4 linked regions of the Homo sapiens genome follow. The protein of the gene in region 1 interacts with the protein of each later gene in a biochemical or structural test. Each region holds a gene or a part of one and is shown in the gene's direction. Other genes may lie near its edges.

Region 1 (3,370 bases):
CAATTATTTTGTAGGTGGGGTACACTCAGCTTAAAGTAATGCATTTTTTTTTCCCGTAAAGGCAGAATCCATCTTGTTGCAGATAGCTATCTAAATAATCTCATATCCTCTTTTGCAAAGACTACAGAGAATAGGCTATGACAATCTTGTTCAAGCCTTTCCATTTTTTTCCCTGATAACTAAGTAATTTCTTTGAACATACCAAGAAGTATGTAAAAAGTCCATGGCCTTATTCATCCACAAAGTGGCATCCTAGGCCCAGCCTTATCCCTAGCAGTTGTCCCAGTGCTGCTAGGTTGCTTATCTTGTTTATCTGGAATCACTGTGGAGTGAAATTTTCCACATCATCCAGAATTGCCTTATTTAAGAAGTAAAACGTTTTAATTTTTAGCCTTTTTTTGGTGGAGTTATTTAATATGTATATCAGAGGATATACTAGATGGTAACATTTCTTTCTGTGCTTGGCTATCTTTGTGGACTTCAGGGGCTTCTAAAACAGACAGGACTGTGTTGCCTTTACTAAATGGTCTGAGACAGCTATGGTTTTGAATTTTTAGTTTTTTTTTTTTAACCCACTTCCCCTCCTGGTCTCTTCCCTCTCTGATAATTACCATTCATATGTGAGTGTTAGTGTGCCTCCTTTTAGCATTTTCTTCTTCTCTTTCTGATTCTTCATTTCTGACTGCCTAGGCAAGGAAACCAGATAACCAAACTTACTAGAACGTTCTTTAAAACACAAGTACAAACTCTGGGACAGGACCCAAGACACTTTCCTGTGAAGTGCTGAAAAAGACCTCATTGTATTGGCATTTGATATCAGTTTGATGTAGCTTAGAGTGCTTCCTGATTCTTGCTGAGTTTCAGGTAGTTGAGATAGAGAGAAGTGAGTCATATTCATATTTTCCCCCTTAGAATAATATTTTGAAAGGTTTCATTGCTTCCACTTGAATGCTGCTCTTACAAAAACTGGGGTTACAAGGGTTACTAAATTAGCATCAGTAGCCAGAGGCAATACCGTTGTCTGGAGGACACCAGCAAACAACACACAACAAAGCAAAACAAACCTTGGGAAACTAAGGCCATTTGTTTTGTTTTGGTGTCCCCTTTGAAGCCCTGCCTTCTGGCCTTACTCCTGTACAGATATTTTTGACCTATAGGTGCCTTTATGAGAATTGAGGGTCTGACATCCTGCCCCAAGGAGTAGCTAAAGTAATTGCTAGTGTTTTCAGGGATTTTAACATCAGACTGGAATGAATGAATGAAACTTTTTGTCCTTTTTTTTTCTGTTTTTTTTTTTCTAATGTAGTAAGGACTAAGGAAAACCTTTGGTGAAGACAATCATTTCTCTCTGTTGATGTGGATACTTTTCACACCGTTTATTTAAATGCTTTCTCAATAGGTCCAGAGCCAGTGTTCTTGTTCAACCTGAAAGTAATGGCTCTGGGTTGGGCCAGACAGTTGCACTCTCTAGTTTGCCCTCTGCCACAAATTTGATGTGTGACCTTTGGGCAAGTCATTTATCTTCTCTGGGCCTTAGTTGCCTCATCTGTAAAATGAGGGAGTTGGAGTAGATTAATTATTCCAGCTCTGAAATTCTAAGTGACCTTGGCTACCTTGCAGCAGTTTTGGATTTCTTCCTTATCTTTGTTCTGCTGTTTGAGGGGGCTTTTTACTTATTTCCATGTTATTCAAAGGAGACTAGGCTTGATATTTTATTACTGTTCTTTTATGGACAAAAGGTTACATAGTATGCCCTTAAGACTTAATTTTAACCAAAGGCCTAGCACCACCTTAGGGGCTGCAATAAACACTTAACGCGCGTGCGCACGCGCGCGCGCACACACACACACACACACACACACACACACAGGTCAGAGTTTAAGGCTTTCGAGTCATGACATTCTAGCTTTTGAATTGCGTGCACACACACACGCACGCACACACTCTGGTCAGAGTTTATTAAGGCTTTCGAGTCATGACATTATAGCTTTTGAGTTGGTGTGTGTGACACCACCCTCCTAAGTGGTGTGTGCTTGTAATTTTTTTTTTCAGTGAAAATGGATTGAAAACCTGTTGTTAATGCTTAGTGATATTATGCTCAAAACAAGGAAATTCCCTTGAACCGTGTCAATTAAACTGGTTTATATGACTCAAGAAAACAATACCAGTAGATGATTATTAACTTTATTCTTGGCTCTTTTTAGGTCCATTTTGATTAAGTGACTTTTGGCTGGATCATTCAGAGCTCTCTTCTAGCCTACCCTTGGATGAGTACAATTAATGAAATTCATATTTTCAAGGACCTGGGAGCCTTCCTTGGGGCTGGGTTGAGGGTGGGGGGTTGGGGAGTCCTGGTAGAGGCCAGCTTTGTGGTAGCTGGAGAGGAAGGGATGAAACCAGCTGCTGTTGCAAAGGCTGCTTGTCATTGATAGAAGGACTCACGGGCTTGGATTGATTAAGACTAAACATGGAGTTGGCAAACTTTCTTCAAGTATTGAGTTCTGTTCAATGCATTGGACATGTGATTTAAGGGAAAAGTGTGAATGCTTATAGATGATGAAAACCTGGTGGGCTGCAGAGCCCAGTTTAGAAGAAGTGAGTTGGGGGTTGGGGACAGATTTGGTGGTGGTATTTCCCAACTGTTTCCTCCCCTAAATTCAGAGGAATGCAGCTATGCCAGAAGCCAGAGAAGAGCCACTCGTAGCTTCTGCTTTGGGGACAACTGGTCAGTTGAAAGTCCCAGGAGTTCCTTTGTGGCTTTCTGTATACTTTTGCCTGGTTAAAGTCTGTGGCTAAAAAATAGTCGAACCTTTCTTGAGAACTCTGTAACAAAGTATGTTTTTGATTAAAAGAGAAAGCCAACTAAATCATTATGTGCTCATTCTTTTTCTTAAGCTTGTGGATGTCTTGGATCTGGAAAGGGTTTCTGATCACTTAGAGAATTTTCAAACTTTAGGTCAACATTTTCCTTTATTGCCTTGTGGCCACTGAAATGGGAAATGTGACATTTAAAATATGACCCTGGAATAACAGTCCCCATTCTTCTCTCATTTTTAAAAGGAGAAGGTGAAGTGATGGTGATCAGAGAGATGGGTGCTAGGGAATTATAAGAACCAGGATGCTTAAAGGAGAGGTAAAATTGGAAATTGGAGACCCTTTCATTGCCCAGCTAAGGGATAAGGAAAGCTGTTTCTCTCCCATCTGCCTTCTCTGTGAAATAGGGGTCAATGGGAGGGGAGTGGTGGTCAGGTAAGTAGATTCCGTGGCAATGGCTTGTATATAACAAGACCACATCAGCATTTTATTTCTAAGCTTGCTGACATGAGTTTCAGAGAGTTTATCGGGCTGAGAGATTTCTTCTCACCTGTTT
Region 2 (7,299 bases), on another chromosome or scaffold:
TCGAACTCCTGAGCTCAAGTGATCTACCCTGCCTTGGCCTCCTAAAGTGCACAGATTACAGGCATGAGCCACCATGCTCAGCCAGCTATGAGATCTTGAGCAGGTCACTTAACCTCTCTGAGCCTCTTCCCTTAGCAGGGAATGACACCTGGCTTGTGGAGAGAATACAACGAATGTTTCCAAAGTGCGTGGCATACAGTAAGTACTCAATGAATGAGATTTTCTTCCCACCTCTCTAGTCTCAATTTTAGATGTTCCCTGGCTCCCTTAAGTTCCAGAAGTGAGAGGTGGAGAGTGGGGACAGAGAAGGCAGCTCCTGGACAGGTGGGAATCCCCACTGTGTACCCGCCCCCATCCCAGCCCAGCCTAGGAGGCCATACTCGCCGCACCCTACACAAGTCCTTTGCTTCCCTCAGGGACCTCAAGCCTCCCACCCCCACCATCCTGCTGGCCTCCAGATTTTCTGCCTCCTGAAACCTGGGCCCAGGCCCCAGCAATGGTCCTCTCCCCAATCTGCTGGTGGCTCCCACAGGACAGGGAAATTAACAGCACTTGAGTGTGCTCTGAAGGTTGGTACAACCTGGCGGCCCCACACTGCCCATGCCCTCCTAGTGGAGCCAGGTGACTTCTGGGCCTGCAGGGGCTGAGCAGGATGCATCTTCCAGCTCTGGGCCACGAGGAAGTGATGGCACTGTCCTCTCTTGTCTCACCAGCAGATCTCCAGGCCCAGTGAGGCTGAGACTTTGGGGGTGAGGTTGTTGGACACACAGTTCCCAGTGAGTCCTGATGGCACCATGGACCTTACAGGGGCTCAGAGGGGGAAAGCAGCTTGCTTGGGGCTACACAGTCTATGGATGAACAGAGCCAGGGCTGAGGGGACAACAGGAAACTCTGTTCATGGGGGCCCGAGTTCCCATCCTGACCAATCTTGGGCAAGTCATTCACAGTTGAGTTTCCTCTGAAAGGGGGATGGTAGCGGCACCTAACTTAAGACAATGTGACAGTTCAATCAGGGAACTGAATTCTCAATACCTAGGAGGACCCACCACAGTACTCACCACATAGTAGACAGTAAATAAGTCATAGCTTCTTCCAAGACCCCAGAGGTATCCAATCTACCCCATTACCTCCCTGGAAGATGAACAAAGAGAGCAAGGGCCTCAGAGACCCAAGGACTGGAGCCTAGGGAAGACCCAGGACCCTGGTGGGCTTTCTGACTTGCTGCCATGCTTGCACAGAAGGGGAGGGTTGAAATGATCCCTGGTTCCATGCTACTAAGTTGAGCCTACTTGGCTCCTCTGCCCTCTGCAGCCACTTCCTGGGTTTCAGATGTAAATACTGGTGGGAGAGTAGGGGGCTGGGATGTGGGGTAGGGGGTGGAGCTTCTGGACAGGAGACTTTGAACATGAGTGGTCACCTCCGAGGTCACCTGCATCCCCCAATTCCTGGAAGTGGGCAGGCCCTGGATACTTATTGAGGAATCTGGACAGAAAGGTTGAGAGGGCTGGGCGTCCAGACCTAGCTGGTCATTAAGGCAACAAGAACTGGTCTAATTGTGGGCTGGGCTGGATTATCACATCCCAAATCCTTAAATACCCAGAAACTCTCTTTTGGGATTTTGGACCTGGGTATGGGGTGGCTGCTGCCACTGCTGCAATGCTGTGGATTGCTGGGAGTGGGACAGCTGTGGCTGCAGCCACCGTTCTGCAAGCTTAATTCCTACCTTCGGAGGTTTCTCAGGTGGCCCTGGTGTACCTACCTGTGAACTTAGGCCACCCACAGGCTGAGGAGGGGCTCAATCACACAGCAATGTGCTGGGACCATGACTCCCTGGTGTCCCTAGAGGTCTGGAAGTGCTTTCATACCACCCACCCTCTCCAGGGATGCTCAGCTGCCACCTACAGGGAGGGCGGGGGTGGAAGAGCAGCAGTCATCACAGTCCATGTCCATGTGACAGGTAGGAAGACTGAGGCCCCAAAGGAGTGCCTTTTCTTGCACCCAATGGCATAGGGAGGCAGAATTTCCCCTGGGGAAAATAAAATAACGCCCCCACTCCGCCGCCTGCGCCCCCACACACCCCGTCCCCCACGCCCGGGTGGACCTAAGCAGCAGTTTTCTGAGCTTTCAGGAATTCCAGACTGAGTTCACTGGCTGTGAGACTAGCGGAGCCTTGAGAATGAATTCAAAGCTGGCAAATTCATTTTGCCTCCTCTCCCTCGGTGGTGGAAGGAGTGATCTCTCCGGCTCTGAAGGAGTTCAAGCCGAGGTCAGCGAAGCCCTCAGAAGGATGTTCTAAAATGGGGGTGGGGGGTAGTGCTCCGGCCTGCTTCCCCGGTTGGCCCAAGGTCCGCGCTGATCACCGCCCAAGAGGCCCAGGAGACCCGCAAATCTGTGCTGCACGTCCGCACTCCCATGCGGGCCTCGTCAATCAGGAGGCGGCTCCGGCCAGGCCTGGACATCTTCGGCCCGCCCCAGGCCCCGGGGGAGACCCCCGCCTGGGCCGCCTCCGGGTGCCCGCCCCCCGGCGGTGTCATTGTTCTCTGACGTCACGCCTCAGCCCCGCCCCTCTCCCCCCACCCTTCCTCCCCCACCTCCGGCTCCCCGCGCCCCCGACCCTGCAGCCTCCGAAGCCCCGGCCGTGCAAGGCTCCCCCCGCAGCCCGGCCGGGGCTGCGCCCCCTTGCGCTCTCCCCAACTTGCCTTTGTTATTCCAGCTCCCTTCCTCGCCTCGCCTCCGACACGGTGGCAGCCTGCAAAACGTGGAGCGCGGAGTCACTGCCACACCTGGAATCCGAAGCGGGCTCCGCCGGCTCCCGGCCGAAGCCGCCCCCGCCTGCCGGGGAGGGGAGCGCGTGCGTGGGCGGCGCGTGTGTGTCCAAAGAGGGCTGCGCGGGCGCCAATTATGATTGGGACTGGGGGTGCCGAAAATCAGGGGTGGGGGGCCTCGAGGAAGGGGTATGGAAGAGGAAGTGGGAGAGGAGGGCGTGTGTTTGTGTGTGTACGTTAACGTGAGGATTTAGTGCCCAGGGGAACGTTTCGTGTTTTGTTTTTTGATTGTATGTGGGGTTGTGTACAGCGATGTGTGTGTGTAACTGCGTGTCTCTGAGCGTGCCTGCTGTGGCCGTGTAAGCGGGCATCTTTGTGAGGGAAAGTAAGCGAGTGTGTGGGGGCGCGTTTGTGGTTTGGGGGGGAGCGTGTTTGCAATGCTGAGGGAGCGAACGTGTGTGCCGTTCTTGTAGGAGTTTCCGTGAGAGTGGCAGTGGACGTGAGCCAAAGTGGGCGCGTAGTTGGATGCTCTCGGGGGGGGGGGGTGGGTCGGCTAGGGGAACTCCCGCGAGTGGGTGCACCCAACTGCGCCTCGTGAGTACCTTAGCTCTCCGCTATCTCTGGCAGTGCCCAGTCCGGGGCAGAGGGCCAGGCCCCAGCCTAGCAGCTCCCACGCAGCCCGCGCGCACAGCGCCCCGGGCGCTCCGCGCCGGGCCTAGGGGAATCCACGCGTCTCTGGACTGTGCTAGGTGCCGCGGATCAACTGTGGCCACCACACCCCCGCTCCCCCACAGCTGTCGGGGGGCCGCGCTCTAGTCTCCCTCAAAGTCACCCTTGGTGGTGGTGGTCCTCTTCCCACCCCAACCACCAGTCCCCGGGCTGTAGGAACAATTCCAAAGTCAACCCCAGGGGAAGGCTTTGGAGGTCCAGTTACCAACTCGCTTACCCCAATTCGGGTACCTGACAGCGCCCGGGGCCACGAGTGCACTCCAGGCGGGGGCGTGCCAGCGCGGGGCAGGGGCTCTCGGGTGAGCAGTGTGATTTTGGCTTCCTCCCCAAGGTGGTCCCTACCTAGGCTCAGCATTTGTTCCCCTCTCCAAACTTACTGGGGCTGGGGCCTGCAGGGGGGCTGGGGGCTGCAGGGGGCGTCAGGGAGTAGCGGAGGGAGTAGGGCAAGGAGAGAGGTGAGTGGACTGGTGGCGTAGCGGGGAACCAGGAGCCAGGAGAAGAAAAGCTGGGAGAGCGCCGAGACCGAGGAGCGAGGAAGAGAGGAAGAGAAAGGAAAGGAAAGGCGAGGGAGAGAACGAGGAGAGGCGAAAAGGAAAGGGGAAAGAGAGCGCAGAGCGCGAGCCAAGCCGAGCGCCGGCAGCGGCGGCGGCGCGGCGCGGCGCTCCACTCCGGCCTGACTCCGCACCGGCTTTTGCGGGCGGCCGGCGGCGCGGGGCCCTTTGGAAATAGAATAGCCAATGTAATCTGACACTTCAACTTGCTCGGCTCCGGGCGAGTTGATTCACTTACTCACCCCCTAACGCCGAGTTCCTTTTCACTGTCTGTGGACATTAAAAAAGCGAGCGGCGGCGGCGGGCGCCGGGGAGAGCGGGCGGCCGGGCGGCAGGCGGGCGAGCAGCGATCGGGCGGCCGAGCGAGCGAGCAACGCCGGCGCAGCGCGGTGACCCCAGCCCCAGCCGGCGCGGAGCAGGAGCCGGAGCCGAGCGGATCTCGGCGCCCTCGCTGCGCTCCTCCCGGCCCGAGCCTGCCCTACCCGGCGGTGGCGGCGGCGCGTCCTCCAGCGGCGGCAGCGGCGCTCGCAGCGCCCGGTAAGTTTGGGGCCAGAGCCAGGCGCCCGCTGGCTCCGGGGCTACCTCCCGCTCCCCGGGGACTCTCGGGGTGCAAGCGTGGGGATTGGGTGCTGGGGTTTTTCCCTTAAAGTGTCCCCCGGAGCGGGGCGACCGGCCGGCGGCGCGGGCTCCGCTCCGCTCTCCTTGGCGGCCGGGGGCCGAGGCCCGGCGGCCGGCGAGCTCCCGGCTGCGCGGAGCCGGCTTGGGCTGCGCGTGGGGGCCGGGTTTGTCAGGGTGTGCGGGGCGTAAGTGTGGTCGTGCGCGCGCGGACCCGGTGCCCGCCTCCTGCCGGCGCGCCTCCAGCCCTCGCTCCCTACACCCGGGGGCCGGGCAGGACCGGGAATCGGAGGAGGGAGGGAAGGACCGCCTCGGTCTCCTTCGCCTCCTCTGGGGAGATGCGAAGTTGTGCGCCTGTGTGTGTACAGGAACCGCTGGGGAAAGCGCTGGATTTCAGGATGGCAAGGGGTGGTGGTGTTAACTTGTGCGTCTGAATTTCCAGGGAAAACATACACTTTTGTAAATGGGAGGTGGGGGCGCGGTTAAGTTGTTTGTGTGGGAATTGCCCGGGGAAAGCTGGCGCGCGGTACAAACGAGAAACGCGGAGGTGTGTGTGCAGGGTTTTCTCCCAGGGCTTCGCAAGCCAGAGGGGCGCTCAGGCCAGTGCCTGGACGGGGCTGCCCCGGCCAGGAGGGGAGCCCAGGGGGAAGATGTGCGTGTGTGTGCGCGCGCGCGTTGCAAATACGAAAGTAATTTCCCCGTGTTCTTTCTTCCTCTCCGTCTCCGGCGGCGGTGGCCCCGGGGGAGTGGGAGGCCAGCCGGGGCGGAGGTTGGGGGGCCGGGGCTGGAGCCGGGGTCGGGGGGGGGAGGCGGGTTCTGGAAGCTTGCTTCACATTCCTGGCGTCTGGGCTGGGGAAAAAACAGTGGGGAGCGCGGCCTCGGCGTCTAGGGCGCGGGCAGCGGGCGCGCGTCGCCCCCTCGCTGGGGACATCTGTCCAGGAAGCCGGCCGGGCGGGGATAGGGCGCGGTGCGGAGGGCAGGCTCCCCGCCCTGGAGCGGTGGGGGCGCGGGCGAGGGGCGGCCGCCTTCCCGGCCATTGTGCGCCAGCAGATTTTCACGGGAGACTGCCCCGGAGCCGCCGGAGAAGGCCGGGAGCCGGCCTCAGCCCCGGGTTTAAAAGACACTCCAGGAATGTAAACAACCCGGGCGGGAGGGCGGGCGGACGGGAGCGCGCCAGGGCAGCCGGTCCGGGCCCCCCACCCCTCCCCGGGGACAGCCGGTCGGCACTGCCGCCCAGCCCTACCCCTCTACCTGCAGCAAACTTTTTCCTTCTCTGCCTTCCCTTCCCACCTCGTCCCTCCAGCAGGTCACAGAGCGAGGGCCGCTCCCAGGTGGGCCAAGGGTGCTTGGTACCCTTGCCTGACCGGGGAGGCCTGACGGCCGGGTCCCTGCTTCGGTGCCCGGAGCCCCGGCTGCGCCTGCCCGGGAGCCGTCAGCTTCCTGGGTAGGCAGTGCCCGAGTAACTGGGGCTTTGAGCCTGCCCGCCTGCCTCCCTCCCTCCCTCCCTCCCGCTGCTCCTTCCCCCGCGCGCTCTCCCCCTTCTCCTCTCCCCTGACTGCTTTTCCAATGCCCTGACATGAGGGAGGAAGATTTAACTTGGCAGCCCAAACAAATGTTCTCTCAGAGGTCCTCCAAGAAGCTGGCGGCTGGGCTGGCGGGGTGAGGGCACGGCTCGGCCAGCCTTTCCCTCCTCTCTGCTCTGCCACGGACATTTGGAGCCCTCTGGGTGGACAGCCCAGGGCATGGGAGAGTAGGGCCCAGCCCCAAAGATTTAAAAGGGCAGTGGGCGGCCGCCTGTGGAAGCCCCTGGCTCCGCGCCGGGTGCAGAGCCGCTCCGAGCTGCCTCCTGGTGCCAAGGGTTTTCTGAAGGATTTTCTTGAGCAACAGTTTGTCTCCCTGCTGCAACCTGGGAACCGGGCCTGGTAGACCAGAGGGTTAACCAGTGCCGACTCCTCCTCCCTGGTGGGTGTGAGGACAGGCTGGTTACACAGGGCAGGGCAGGAGGCCAGAGGCTGTTCCCAGAGGTGCCTGGGTTTGCTTATTACTGTTTTTGAAGGTACAGATAAAGAGGCAGGCGCCGGGGCTGGAGAGCCGGGCAGCTTGGCGCTGGTGAATTCCAGCCTGCGTTCGCTGGCGCTTGTACGGTCCCGGGAGTGTGAAGCTGCTGTTGAGCTATCGGGGAAGTTGAGATGAGAGAGCAAGCTCTTTCTTAGCCTTCTCAGCCCCGGCTGCTTTGTGAGGGGGTCCAGAGTGGGGGAAATTCCTGGCCCCTCACTTGCTGGCTCCTGGCCCCAGTGCAGGGGCCGGGTGGGTTTGTGAATACCCCAAGCCTTGGGCTGACCTTTCCCTCTTCAAGTCGAGGATGTTGAAACATCAGCATCAAACAAAAGACACATTGAAAGCCCTATCTGCTACAGAGCACGTGTGAGTTGGGGGCCCAGGGAATGCATTTGGAGGGAGATGGTGTTTTCTTCTGAGCTTTATGATTTTCGGTTGGGTTTTGTTTTCCCCCAAAGGACAGAAGCGTCTCCTTGTCCCAAATCACGAGGTTTTGAAACGCTGTTTTCACATGTAAATCTCAAAAGTTTAGACTTCTGAGAGTTGGTGGCAGTGACTGGGGGTGGGGGCTGGGTGGGGGG
Region 3 (7,040 bases), on another chromosome or scaffold:
TAATGTTATTGAGAGGTCGATCCCTCTGTTCTTTCATTACTACATGAGTGGTTGTCTTTTATGACTGGTTCTGTCCTCTTTCCCAACCCACAGAAGTTCTGGATTATGTACAGTGTCTTATTTGAGAGTTCTTTAGAAAGCTTGGATTATTCATGATGGCGTATTTTTTATTTTTGACTTATTCAAAAATTCATTATCTTTAAGATTGGTTTGCAAATTGCAACTTTTTTGTTAGGCAGCTTTTGGGGCCTAAAGACAACTGACAGTATATGATAGTCATGGGGTACTTGTTTTCCTGGATTCCTCTAAGGTCTTAACTCTTACAAGGGCAGGTTCCTTCCCTTGTTTTCTAAAGCTTAGGGAGTCAGCAGGAGTTATTACTGATATCTGGTCTTTTCCCTTTTTTTTTTGTATTGAGTTGCTTCATAAGGATTGCCTTTCTCCATTGATGCCAATTTAAAAGAATTTGTCAAATACTCTTCTAAATTTTGATACAAAGCTTTGAGATCTCGTCTAAATGCACTCATTTTTTTCTTCTTTTAAGTGTAATTCTTTGATATTTGTACACCAAGCTCTTTTTTCTTAGACACTTTCTTTGTTCCCTGCTATTCATCTTTCTGCTTTTAAAAAGGAAGGGATCGGCCGGGTGCAGTGGCTCACGCCTGTAATCCCAGCACTTTGGGAGGCCGAGGTGGGCGGATCACGAGGTCAGGAGATCAAGACCATCCTGGCTAACACGGTGAAACCCTGTCTCTACTAAAAATACAAAAAATTAGCTGGGCATGGTGGCAGGCACCTGTAGTCCCAGCTACTTGAGAGGCTGAGGCAGGAGAATATCGTGAACCCAGGAGGCGGAGCTTGCAGTGAGCCGAGGTCGTGCCACTGCACTCCAGCCTGGGTGACAGAGCGAGACTCCCTCTCATAAAAAATAAATAAATTAATAGGAAAGGATCTTTACCCTCACTCCCTTCATTACTCTTCATTAGCAATATAAATCTCTAGAAACTCTGTTATTAGAACCTTAGTTTCTATGATATTTGGTAAAAGTACTTTACTGGCTTTATTGTTATCATACAGAGGCACTGATTGTAGAAAGTAGGAGATTTAGTGTAGTGGGTGGCTGGATTTAATACAATTCACGGAGGCTTATATGGTACTGATTCTAATTAAAGGAGACGCAAGAAACTGTGTTTGGAAAATGTGAGACTATTTTGCGTACCTTGGATAAAGGTATACCAGGATGTCAGACTGTCACTTTGCAGCTATTACTTCATATAGTAGAAGCTTGGATTTGGAGTCAAAAAACCTGAAACTGAATCCTAGTTATATTATTTGTAACTCATTATTTGTGTGACCTCAGGCACAGGCCTTATCATTCAAAGCTTGTCTCCTAATCTATAGAATAGTGTTCTGTTAACACCCCGGGTATATCGTAGAGAAACAAATGAAAAACGGTGAAGTGTTAGGTACATGTGAAGAGTAAAGGATCATGTACCGAATCCCTCTGATATGGGAACCAAGGATGTTTCCTATTGTAGGATTCAAGGCATTTTCCGTCTAACTCAGGAGCGCTATGTAAATATCTATTTGTTGCAAGAAAAACATTATTGTAATGATGGGCAGCCATTATAGCCAATCCAATTGAATGATATTTCATTCAGCAACTGTGTGTCTATCTTGGGATATATGTATGAAAAAAGTAAGACAAAAGCTCCATTTGCATGGGGCTTACATCCTAGTGGGGGGAGGACAATAAATACTAAAAATAAGTGGTATGGATAAAAGAGGAAGGTTAGAGATATTGAGCTTGGGAGCATTAAAAAGGATAGTTCAAGTAGGCCTCATGAAAAAGGTGACATCTGAACAAAGGCTTGGAGGAGATGAGATAGCTGTGCAGCTTCTGGGGCAGTAATCCAGGAAGAGGTTTTTAGGTAGAAGCACACACGCAGAGAGAGTGGCAAGGAGCCCGGTGTGGCTGGAGAGTAGGAGCTGGAGAAGAGCCATAGGAAATGAAGTCAGAGTGGGGAGTATATCAGGTGGGGCCTTGGTGGCCTCAGTAAGGACTTTGGCCTTTACTCTGAGAGACTGTCTTTGGAGACTTCTCGTCAGAGGAGGAGTATGATCTGACTTAAATTTTTTGTTTACAGATGTAAGTGCTGATAATATTGTATAATGTTCTAATGCATTCTTTTTTGAAATGAAAATAAAGTACATAGTAGATAACATTTCTACAGATTAAATGGTAACTACATATTTTTTTTTCTTCTATTAAATCTAAGGTCAGCTTCCCCTTACCATGGTTTTACCATTGTGAATCGACTAAATATGCACAATCTAGTTGAACCAGTGAATAAAGATTTGGAATTTCAGCTCCATGAACCATTTCTTCTGTATAGAAATGCAAGCTGTGAGTATATCTGTTTTATTATAGTTATTACATTTAAAATTGAGTGACTTTAGTTTCTATCAATCCATTATTTAGGAAGTTTCAAATTACAAAACAAAATATGGTCTCTACTTAATGATTATAAATGAGTCTGTTGGAAAGATCAAACCTTTTAAACTGGGCTCTGAGGCCAGAGGTGGTGGCTCATGCCTGTAATCCCAGCACTTTGGGAGGCCGAGGAGGGCAGATCACTTGAGGTCAGGAGTTCGAGACCAGCCAGGCCAACATGGTGAAACCCCGTATCTACTAAAAATACAGAAAAAAATTAGCCGGGCTTGGTGGCAGGCGCCTGTAATCACTTGAACCTGGGAGGTGGAGGTTGCAGTGAGCTGAGATCGCGCCACTGTACTCCAGCCTGGGCAACAGAATGAGACTGTGTCTCAAAAAAATAAATAAATAAACTGGGCTCTGAAACTGGAAACATTCTTTTGTATATAATTTAGTTTACTATTTCATTTAATAGCACTACATTTCTGTTGTCGGTTTATTAAAATAAGGTTTATGCCTTTGTTTTTTTGCAGCTGTGGACTATCAGCTGCCCATGTCCCTAAGCAACAGAACTTAGTTTGGGACACACAGGATGGGAACAGATACAGATAATTCTTTCCACAAAGAAAGTATTATTATTACTATTATTATTTTCTTTTTTTTGAGACGGAGTCTTGCTCTGTTGCCCAGGCTGGAGTGCAGTGGTGTGATCTAGGCTCATGCAAGCTCTGCCTCCCGGATTCATGCCCTTCTCCTGGCTCGGCCTCCCAAGTAGCTGGGACTACAGGCACCCGCCACCACGCCTGGCTAATTTTTTTGTATTTTTGGTAGAGAAGGGGTTTCACCGTGTTAGCCAGGATGGTCTTGATCTCCTGACCTTGTGATCTGCCTGCCTCGGCCTCCCAAAATGCTGGGATTATAGGCATGAGCCACCACGCCCGGCCAGAAAATATTATTTTTGCCCAGAATAGTGGTGATGGGTTTTTTTTTTTAAGATATTTATTACTTTTTCTACTTTATTTTGTCTGAATATGTTTCTAAGTAAGGTTTTTCTATCTGTTTATTTAATTGAGTGTCTACTGGTTACCAGCACTGAGCCAAGAGCTGTGGTGCTTTAATGTTAACGATACAGTTACCTATGTGGTGTAAGCAGGCAGTTAAGTCAACTGAGACTCAGAGATGCATAACTATTACCCTGTTGGAGAGTTAGGATTATGACTATTCTTCTGCTTTTTAGTCCAGGGTTCTTTCAGGCATTTTTACAATCTCTAATAACGATTGGATGTAGTCAGCAAAGCTAGAGTGGCCCTTCCAAGAAACTACAGTACTAAAAAATATACTTGATTCCAGTGTATTAGTATGGATATTGAAGGTATGGGTGTTTGAGGACAGTTTGTTGGACATTGACTATAGGGATATGAAAACTGGTTATGGTAACAATGATTGTGCTCTAATTGGCATCTAAGGATATAGTTGGAGAAATGTTGCTTCTAACTTAAAAAGTAAAAGTTAATGTGTTTGAATTTCACTTGGCGGGGGGGTAATTGGTCTTGGGGGATGTCTTCAGTATAAAATAGAAAAAGTTACTAAAAATTATACACCTCTTAATTCCCTGAATGAGAAGTAACAAGGCCTATTTTAAAGCTAGAAACCCCCAAGTTCTTTTCCGTAGCACACTTTGAAGTATAAGTGAAATAGGTTCTATCTTTTGACTTCTCAGTAAACTATTTGTCCAGGTAATTACCTCTCAGATTTTAAATTCTGTGGACATATTAGACATGCTTTGTAATAGCTGTAAGTTCAGATGGATTTATTTAAACTAATGTTAACAATGTAATTATTTCAGATTGCTCTTTTCTTTGTACTGAATATTCCATTAAAGGGAAAATTCGGCTGGGCAAAGTGGCTCAACACCTGCAATCCCACGATTTTGGGAGACCGAGGCAAGCAGATTGCTTGAGCCCAGGAGTTTGAGACCAGCCTGGGCAACATGTCAAAACCCCCACTCCACAAAAAAATAGAAAAATTAGCCAGGTGTGGTGTCACACACTTGTAGTCCCAGCTACCCAGGAGGCTGAGGTGGGAAAGTCGCTTGAACCCAGGAGGCTGTCCAGGCTGCAGTGAGCCATGATTGCGCCACTGCACTCCAGCCTGGGCAACAAGCGAGACCCTGACTCAAAAAATGAAAAGAGGGTGGGAGAAATTCTGCAAATGAATATGGATCCAATTTTTTTTTAAGTGAAATAGGCTTAATTCTGTTCTTTACTGCCTGGAAACTTAATCTAGCCATCACTCCTAAGTGGTTTGATTATTAAAGTAGTCAGTAGGGAAAGTTATCCGGACCCAGTTACCATTTAGCATAAACCTGAGATGAATTGTATTATATTTTTTTCACAAGGCAAAAGTCCTGTGAAATTGAAAGTGTGACATAACACAAATGTAATTGAACCATGAGTAACCAGAAGCTAACTAATTAGAGCTTCAGTTGTCTGGAAATATTTTTATAGTTCGTGTGTGGAAGAAATGAAGGCAAATTATAAGAAAACAAGCTAATACTAGGTTTTATTTTCTGAAAATCAAGCAGATATCCAGAGAATAACCTGGGGTCGGCATTAAAATGTCAATATTTTATAACTTTAACTCCACTGTAGTATCATAGGTTAAATTGTTATAGTGAGACCTAAAATCATCAGGAGTATTTATTATGTTAACTAGAACATTCTTGGGGAGAAAGTGCATTAATGCATTTTACTTTAGAAAATTTTCAACTGATTGAAACAAAAGTTTTCTTAGTTGAACAGAAAACTCACTTAACCAGGTCATTTCATTAGGGAAAGTATTTAAAGGAATAGCTGTATTGGGGAGAAGTGATAAGACAACAGAAAATGATTTTGTGAGTGTTAAGCCCTCTCGAGTGTGTGTTTTGTCTACATAGTCTTAAAAGTGGAAAATAGTCTTGTCAGGTCAGCGAGCTATTAAGTTGTTTAGGGATTTGTTCTTTAAATAAAAAGTTAGTATCTGATTATGCATACAGGTAATTATACCTGATTCTATAGCTGCACTTCTGCCATTCTCTTGTGGGAAATACCATCAAGACACCTGACCCATTTAACTCAAGTGACACCTTCATATCCAACTTCTTTCATTCAAATTAATTTTTGGAGTTAATGTACTAGAACAGTGAACCATAACTTTTTTTCAGTTCTAAGTTATTTGTTTTATTTATTTTTAAGAGTTTTTCTTTTTTTTTTTTTTTGAGACGGAGCCTTGCTCTGTCACCCAGGCTGGAGTGCAGTGGCATGATCTTGGCTCACTGCAAGCTCTGCCTCCCAGGTTCACGCCATTCTCCTGCCTCAGCCTCCCGAGTAGCTGGGACTACAGGCGCCCACCACCACGCCCGGCTAATTTTTTCTATTTTTAGTAGAGACGGGGTTTCACCGTGTTAGCTAGGATGGTCTCGATCTCCTGACCTCGTGATCCACCTGCCTTGGCCTTCCAAAGTGCTGGGATTACAGGAGTGAGCCACCGCGCCCAGCCAAGAGTTTTTCTTTATAAAACATGCCCATCTACACCCACCCCACCCCTCAAGAAAAAGATAAAATCTTAAAGAGAAAATTCTTACACTGACTAAGGGCTTAGGCTTGGTGATTCTCTTAAATCTTTGTGGGGTAGTGGTGGTGGTGGTGGTGGTTGTTTTCAAAAGACAAGGTCTCACTGTGTTGCCCAGGCTGGTCTTGAACTCCTGGGCTCAAGCAATTCTCCCGCCTCAGCCTCCCGAAGTGCTAGCATGGGCCACCATGTCCAGCCTCTTGAATCTTTTGGGAACAGTGTATTTTTATTCTGTGCAAGGGCCTTTTGGCAGTCACAAGACCCCAGTGGGATTGCAATGAATTATGGGGAGGTTATAAATTCTGGAGTTATTGAGTAGCAGTGGTATTTCTAGCACCTTATTTCTGATCCTCAACTTACAGGTTGAGAAAACAAGAGGCTCAGAGCTGTTTAGGAATCTGCTCGAGATTCGCAAAGGTAATAAGTGACAGATGGAGAATTTGGGAGTAGGTCTTTCGGGCTTCAAGGCCAATGTTCTTTCCACTCTACTGTAACAATAAAATTACTTCATCAATCCATATTCTAGAGTAGTGCTATCCACTAAAACTTTGCAATTAGGGAAAATGATAGTTCCGTGTCAGCACTGTCCCATATAGTAGCCTGCAATGTGGCTAGGGCAAATGAAGAACACTTCTTTTTAGTTTATTTAATTTAATATATTAGAATTTACATGGCTGTATGTGCTGGCAGCTGCCATACTGGACAGTGGAAGTCTCAGCATGAGCTCATGTGCTAACATGCTCTTTGTTGTGCCATACCTGAATCAAACAACTACTTGGGAAGCTTTGGCTTAGATTTTTATGCGTCCTATTTAGTCATTCCTTTTTGAAACTTACAAATGATTTCTAGATACAAAAGCTGCAGAATATATCCCTGAGGGTGGCTTTGCCATGGTAACATTCTTTTGGCATGGAATTTAGTTTGCAGATAAGAATTCTATTCTGGGCTTTGCCTTACTGACTATAACCTTGGCTAAATCATTTAAACCACTGATTTG
Region 4 (5,172 bases), on another chromosome or scaffold:
GCCCAGGCATTTCTCCTCTGTCTGGTTCTTTCTCAGCCTGAGCAGGGTTGCAGACCCTCACTATGTCAGCACCTAAAATTTTAGGCACATAATGTTATGGTCTGTGTGCCCCATCTGGTCCCCGTAGGATATATGCACCTACTTTTCTGTTCACTTAGTACTTCCTTTTTTTTTTTCTTTTTTTTGAGATGGAGTCTCACGCTGTCACCCAGGCTGGAGTGCAGTGGTGCAATGGTACTTCCTTTATTTATTCAAGATTTATTTATTGGCCGGGTGTGGTGGCTCATGCCTGTAATCCCAGCACTTTGGGAGGCCAAGGCGGGGTCGATCACCTAAGGTCAGGAGTTTCAGACTAGCCTGGCCAACATGATGAAACCCCGTCTCTACTAAAAAATACAAAAATTAGCCAGGTGCAGTGGCTCACACTTGTAATCCTGGCACTTTGGGAGGCCAAGGCAGGCGGATCACGAGGTCAGGAGGTGAAGGCCAACATGGTGAAACCCTGTCTCCACTAAAAATAAAAAAAATTTAGCTGGGCGTGGTGGCACGCACCTGTAATCCCCGCTACTCGGGATGCTGAGGCAGGAGAATCACTTGAACCCGGGAGGTGGAGGTTGCAGTGAGCCAATATGGTGCCACTGCACTCCAGCCTGGGTGACAGAGCAAGACTTTGTCTCAAAAACAAAAAAAAAAAAAGATGGCCGGGTGCAGTGGCTCACGCCTGTAATCCCAGCACTTTGGGAGGCCGAGGCGGGTGGATCACAAGGTCAGGAGATTGAGACCATTCTGGCCAACATGGTGAAACCCCATTTCTATTAAAAATATAAAAATTAGCGGGGCGTGGTGGTGGGCACCTGTAATCCCAGCACTTGGGGAGGCCGAGACGGGTGGATCACCTGAGGTCAGGAGTTTGAGACCAGCCTGGCCAACATGGTGAAACCCCATCTCTACAAAAAATACAAAAAAAATTAGCTGGGCGTGGTGGCGTAGGCCTGTCATCTCAGCTACTCAGAAGGCTGAGGCAGGAGAATCGCTTGAACCTGAGAAGTGGAGGTTGTAGTGAGCCAAGATTGTGCCACTGCTCTCCAGCCTGGGTGACAGAGCGAGACTCCATCCCCCACCGCCCCGCAAAAAAAAAGGAAAAGAGAAAGATTTATTTTTTGAACCTCTGGTTTGTGCCAGGTACCATATTAGGCCCTAAAGATACCAGAGGGAACAAAACAGACCTCATGAAACTGATGTTTTAGTGGGGGCAGACAAATAGTAAATAAGTAAACATCCATGAGATCCATTATGATGAGTGTTATGAGAAGAATAAAGACTGGAAGGAAAATGGGAGAATGTTGGGGAGGGTTAGTTTGGGATAAGGAAGGTGAGGACAGGGCAGGCCCCAACTGACAAGGAAACGTTTGAATAAAGAGCCTAAGGAGGCAAGGCGGGGAGCCGCATGGGTGTCTGGGGGTAAGAGTATTCAAGGCAGAGGGCACGGCTGGGATTGATGCCCTGAGATGGGAGTGGTTTTCCATATTCTAGGAGCACTGAGAGACCAATGTGGCTGTAGTGAGATCAATCGGAGGGACATAGGGAAGAGAGGAATCCTAAGGGGTCAGGTCAGAGACGGCTTCCAGGGTTTGGAGTGTGATGGGGCACCATTGTAAGATTCCAGGCGGGAAGTTTTCCTCTGGATACTCCATACCTTTGAAAGACCCCAGCCTCAAGTTCTAAGCATGTGGTGGGAGGCTCCCACCTGGTGCAATCCCCGCCTCAGCTCCTGAGAAACTCCTCATGTGGCATTTCCTGCTTGCCTCCCACTTGGGCCCCACAGGGAGATGCGCTGGAACAAGGGCACCATCCTGAAGGCCTCTGTGGATTATATCCGCAAGCTGCAGAAGGAGCAGCAGCGCTCCAAAGACCTGGAGAGCCGGCAGCGATCCCTGGAGCAGGCCAACCGCAGCCTGCAGCTCCGAATTCAGGTTTGAAAAGAGGAGATGGTGGTGGGGGAAGAGGGGGAGAGCTTCCTGCAGGTGGAGGCAGAGAGAGAGCAGGCCAGGGTTTCCCTTCCTGGCATACTTGGGGGATCCCTGGGCTTCCCAGATCACACGATGATGATAGTGATAATGATAAATAATAATCATAATATTAACAAGGATAATAATATTGCTAATGTACATAGCATTTATCTTGTGCTCTGTACTGTGACAAGAGCTTTATATCCACTAACTTATTCAATCCTCAGAATTCTATGAGATAGGGGCCATTATTTTATTTATTTATTTATTTATTTTTGAGATGGAGTTTCGCTCGTTGCCCAGGCTGGAGTGCAATGGCGCAATCTCGGCTCACCGCAACCTCCGCCTCCCGGGTTCAAGCAATTCTCCTGTCTCAGCCTCCTGAGTAGCTAGGATTATAGGCATGCACCACCACACCCAGCTAATTTTTGTATTTTTAGTAGAGATGGGGTTTCTCCATGTTGGTCAAGCTGGTCTCGAACTCCTGACCTCAGGTGATCCACCTGCCTCGGCCTCCCAAAGTGATTACAGGCGTGAGCCACCGCGCCCAGCCTAGGGGCCATTATTATATACCCACTTTACAGTTTGCGACTCTGAAGCTTCAGAGATGTTAAGCACCTTGCCTAAAGTTTTGGAACTAGTGAGTAGCAGAAGCTGAATTCCAACCCAGGGAACCTACCCTTTTCAACCTTTATACTCCTCTGCCTCTGAGGGACTCTGAACCCTACTTATCCTGCACCCAACCCCTATTTTTTACAGGAACTAGAACTGCAGGCCCAGATCCATGGCCTGCCAGTACCTCCCACTCCAGGGCTGCTTTCCTTGGCCACGACTTCGGCTTCTGACAGCCTCAAGCCAGAGCAGCTGGACATTGAGGAGGAGGGCAGGCCAGGCGCAGCAACGTTCCATGTAGGGGGGGGACCTGCCCAGAATGCTCCCCATCAGCAGCCCCCTGCACCGCCCTCAGATGCCCTTCTGGACCTGCACTTTCCCAGCGACCACCTGGGGGACCTGGGAGACCCCTTCCACCTGGGGCTGGAGGACATTCTGATGGAGGAGGAGGAGGGGGTGGTGGGAGGACTGTCGGGGGGTGCCCTGTCCCCACTGCGGGCTGCCTCCGATCCCCTGCTCTCTTCAGTGTCCCCTGCTGTCTCCAAGGCCAGCAGCCGCCGCAGCAGCTTCAGCATGGAAGAGGAGTCCTGATCAGGCCTCACCCCTCCCCTGGGACTTTCCCACCCAGGAAAGGAGGACCAGTCAGGATGAGGCCCCGCCTTTTCCCCCACCCTCCCATGAGACTGCCCTGCCCAGGTATCCTGGGGGAAGAGGAGATGTGATCAGGCCCCACCCCTGTAATCAGGCAAGGAGGAGGAGTCAGATGAGGCCCTGCACCTTCCCCAAAGGAACCGCCCAGTGCAGGTATTTCAGAAGGAGAAGGCTGGAGAAGGACATGAGATCAGGGCCTGCCCCCTGGGGATCACAGCCTCACCCCTGCCCCTGTGGGACTCATCCTTGCCCAGGTGAGGGAAGGAGACAGGATGAGGTCTCGACCCTGTCCCCTAGGGACTGTCCTAGCCAGGTCTCCTGGGAAAGGGAGATGTCAGGATGTTGCTCCATCCTTTGTCTTGGAACCACCAGTCTAGTCCGTCCTGGCACAGAAGAGGAGTCAAGTAATGGAGGTCCCAGCCCTGGGGGTTTAAGCTCTGCCCCTTCCCCATGAACCCTGCCCTGCTCTGCCCAGGCAAGGAACAGAAGTGAGGATGAGACCCAGCCCCTTCCCCTGGGAACTCTCCTGGCCTTCTAGGAATGGAGGAGCCAGGCCCCACCCCTTCCCTATAGGAACAGCCCAGCACAGGTATTTCAGGTGTGAAAGAATCAGTAGGACCAGGCCACCGCTAGTGCTTGTGGAGATCACAGCCCCACCCTTGTCCCTCAGCAACATCCCATCTAAGCATTCCACACTGCAGGGAGGAGTGGTACTTAAGCTCCCCTGCCTTAACCTGGGACCAACCTGACCTAACCTAGGAGGGCTCTGAGCCAACCTTGCTCTTGGGGAAGGGGACAGATTATGAAATTTCATGGATGAATTTTCCAGACCTATATCTGGAGTGAGAGGCCCCCACCCTTGGGCAGAGTCCTGCCTTCTTCCTTGAGGGGCAGTTTGGGAAGGTGATGGGTATTAGTGGGGGACTGAGTTCAGGTTACCAGAACCAGTACCTCAGTATTCTTTTTCAACATGTAGGGCAAGAGGATGAAGGAAGGGGCTATCCTGGGACCTCCCCAGCCCAGGAAAAACTGGAAGCCTTCCCCCAGCAAGGCAGAAGCTTGGAGGAGGGTTGTAAAAGCATATTGTACCCCCTCATTTGTTTATCTGATTTTTTTATTGCTCCGCATACTGAGAATCTAGGCCACCCCAACCTCTGTTCCCCACCCAGTTCTTCATTTGGAGGAATCACCCCATTTCAGAGTTATCAAGAGACACTCCCCCCTCCATTCCCACCCCTCATACCTACACCCAAGGTTGTCAGCTTTGGATTGCTGGGGCCAGGCCCCATGGAGGGTATACTGAGGGGTCTATAGGTTTGTGATTAAAATAATAAAAGCTAGGCGTGTTTGATGCGCTTTTAACTTTGGCAAAGAGTCTCCTGTCCTTGTTTTACACTGTGCAGTGAACATAGCCCATGCAGGCCAAGAGGGATAAAAGTCCTTGGGAGAAACAGATTCCAGAAGGATGGATAAAAGAATTTAGAAAGGAAGAGGGCATGGAGGAAGACAATATGCAAACAAAAGACAGTATTTTTAAAGACCAATCACCAGGCACAATTTTAACTGCTGCAAGTGTTTCATCTAATTTATTTCTCTAAAGGGATGTTAGTCAGAACATGCTGCTTCTTACTTCCATTTGGTCTTTGAAGAAGCTGAGGAATAGAATTGAACTGTTCTGAAGATATGCAAGCCTGTAAATGGGTGAGGCGGTAAAACAGTAAAGTCAGGTGAGTGAGGGCTCGATTGAAAAATGCCACTGAGGGCAGAGGGGGAAAGAAGCTTTTCTTGCAAATCCACTTTTGAAACTGATAAAGAAGTCTATGAGGATATTTCCTGGCAGACAACAGAGGTATTTAAGATGGTGGAAAGGACAAAGACAAATATCTGAAAGGCAGAGGAA

The links.
Region 2: the proteins of SMAD4 (region 1) and ZMIZ1 form a complex in vitro, tested with the Homo sapiens proteins (one study listed by BioGRID).
Region 3: the proteins of SMAD4 (region 1) and DCP1A form a complex in vitro, tested with the Homo sapiens proteins (one study listed by BioGRID).
Region 4: the proteins of SMAD4 (region 1) and TFE3 form a complex in vitro, tested with the Homo sapiens proteins (2 studies listed by BioGRID).

The regions. Positions count from the first base shown.
Region 1 is NC_000018.10:51,082,176-51,085,545, forward strand, and holds the end of SMAD4 (mothers against decapentaplegic homolog 4), read left to right. Parts: 3' UTR 1-2,867; downstream 2,868-3,370. UniProt on the Homo sapiens protein: In muscle physiology, plays a central role in the balance between atrophy and hypertrophy. When recruited by MSTN, promotes atrophy response via phosphorylated SMAD2/4.
Region 2 is NC_000010.11:79,064,689-79,071,987, forward strand, and holds the start of ZMIZ1 (zinc finger MIZ domain-containing protein 1), read left to right. Parts: upstream 1-4,277; 5' UTR 4,278-4,582; intron 4,583-7,299. UniProt on the Homo sapiens protein: Acts as a transcriptional coactivator. Increases ligand-dependent transcriptional activity of AR and promotes AR sumoylation. The stimulation of AR activity is dependent upon sumoylation.
Region 3 is NC_000003.12:53,337,511-53,344,550, reverse strand, and holds part of DCP1A (mRNA-decapping enzyme 1A), read left to right. Parts: intron 1-2,279; coding exon 2,280-2,407; intron 2,408-6,405; coding exon of another isoform or gene 6,406-6,460; intron 6,461-7,040. UniProt on the Homo sapiens protein: Necessary for the degradation of mRNAs, both in normal mRNA turnover and in nonsense-mediated mRNA decay. Removes the 7-methyl guanine cap structure from mRNA molecules, yielding a 5'-phosphorylated mRNA fragment and 7m-GDP.
Region 4 is NC_000023.11:49,028,198-49,033,369, reverse strand, and holds the end of TFE3 (transcription factor E3), read left to right. Parts: intron 1-188; coding exon of another isoform or gene 189-234; intron 235-1,825; coding exon 1,826-1,973; intron 1,974-2,768; coding exon 2,769-3,212; 3' UTR 3,213-4,644; downstream 4,645-5,172. UniProt on the Homo sapiens protein: Transcription factor that acts as a master regulator of lysosomal biogenesis and immune response.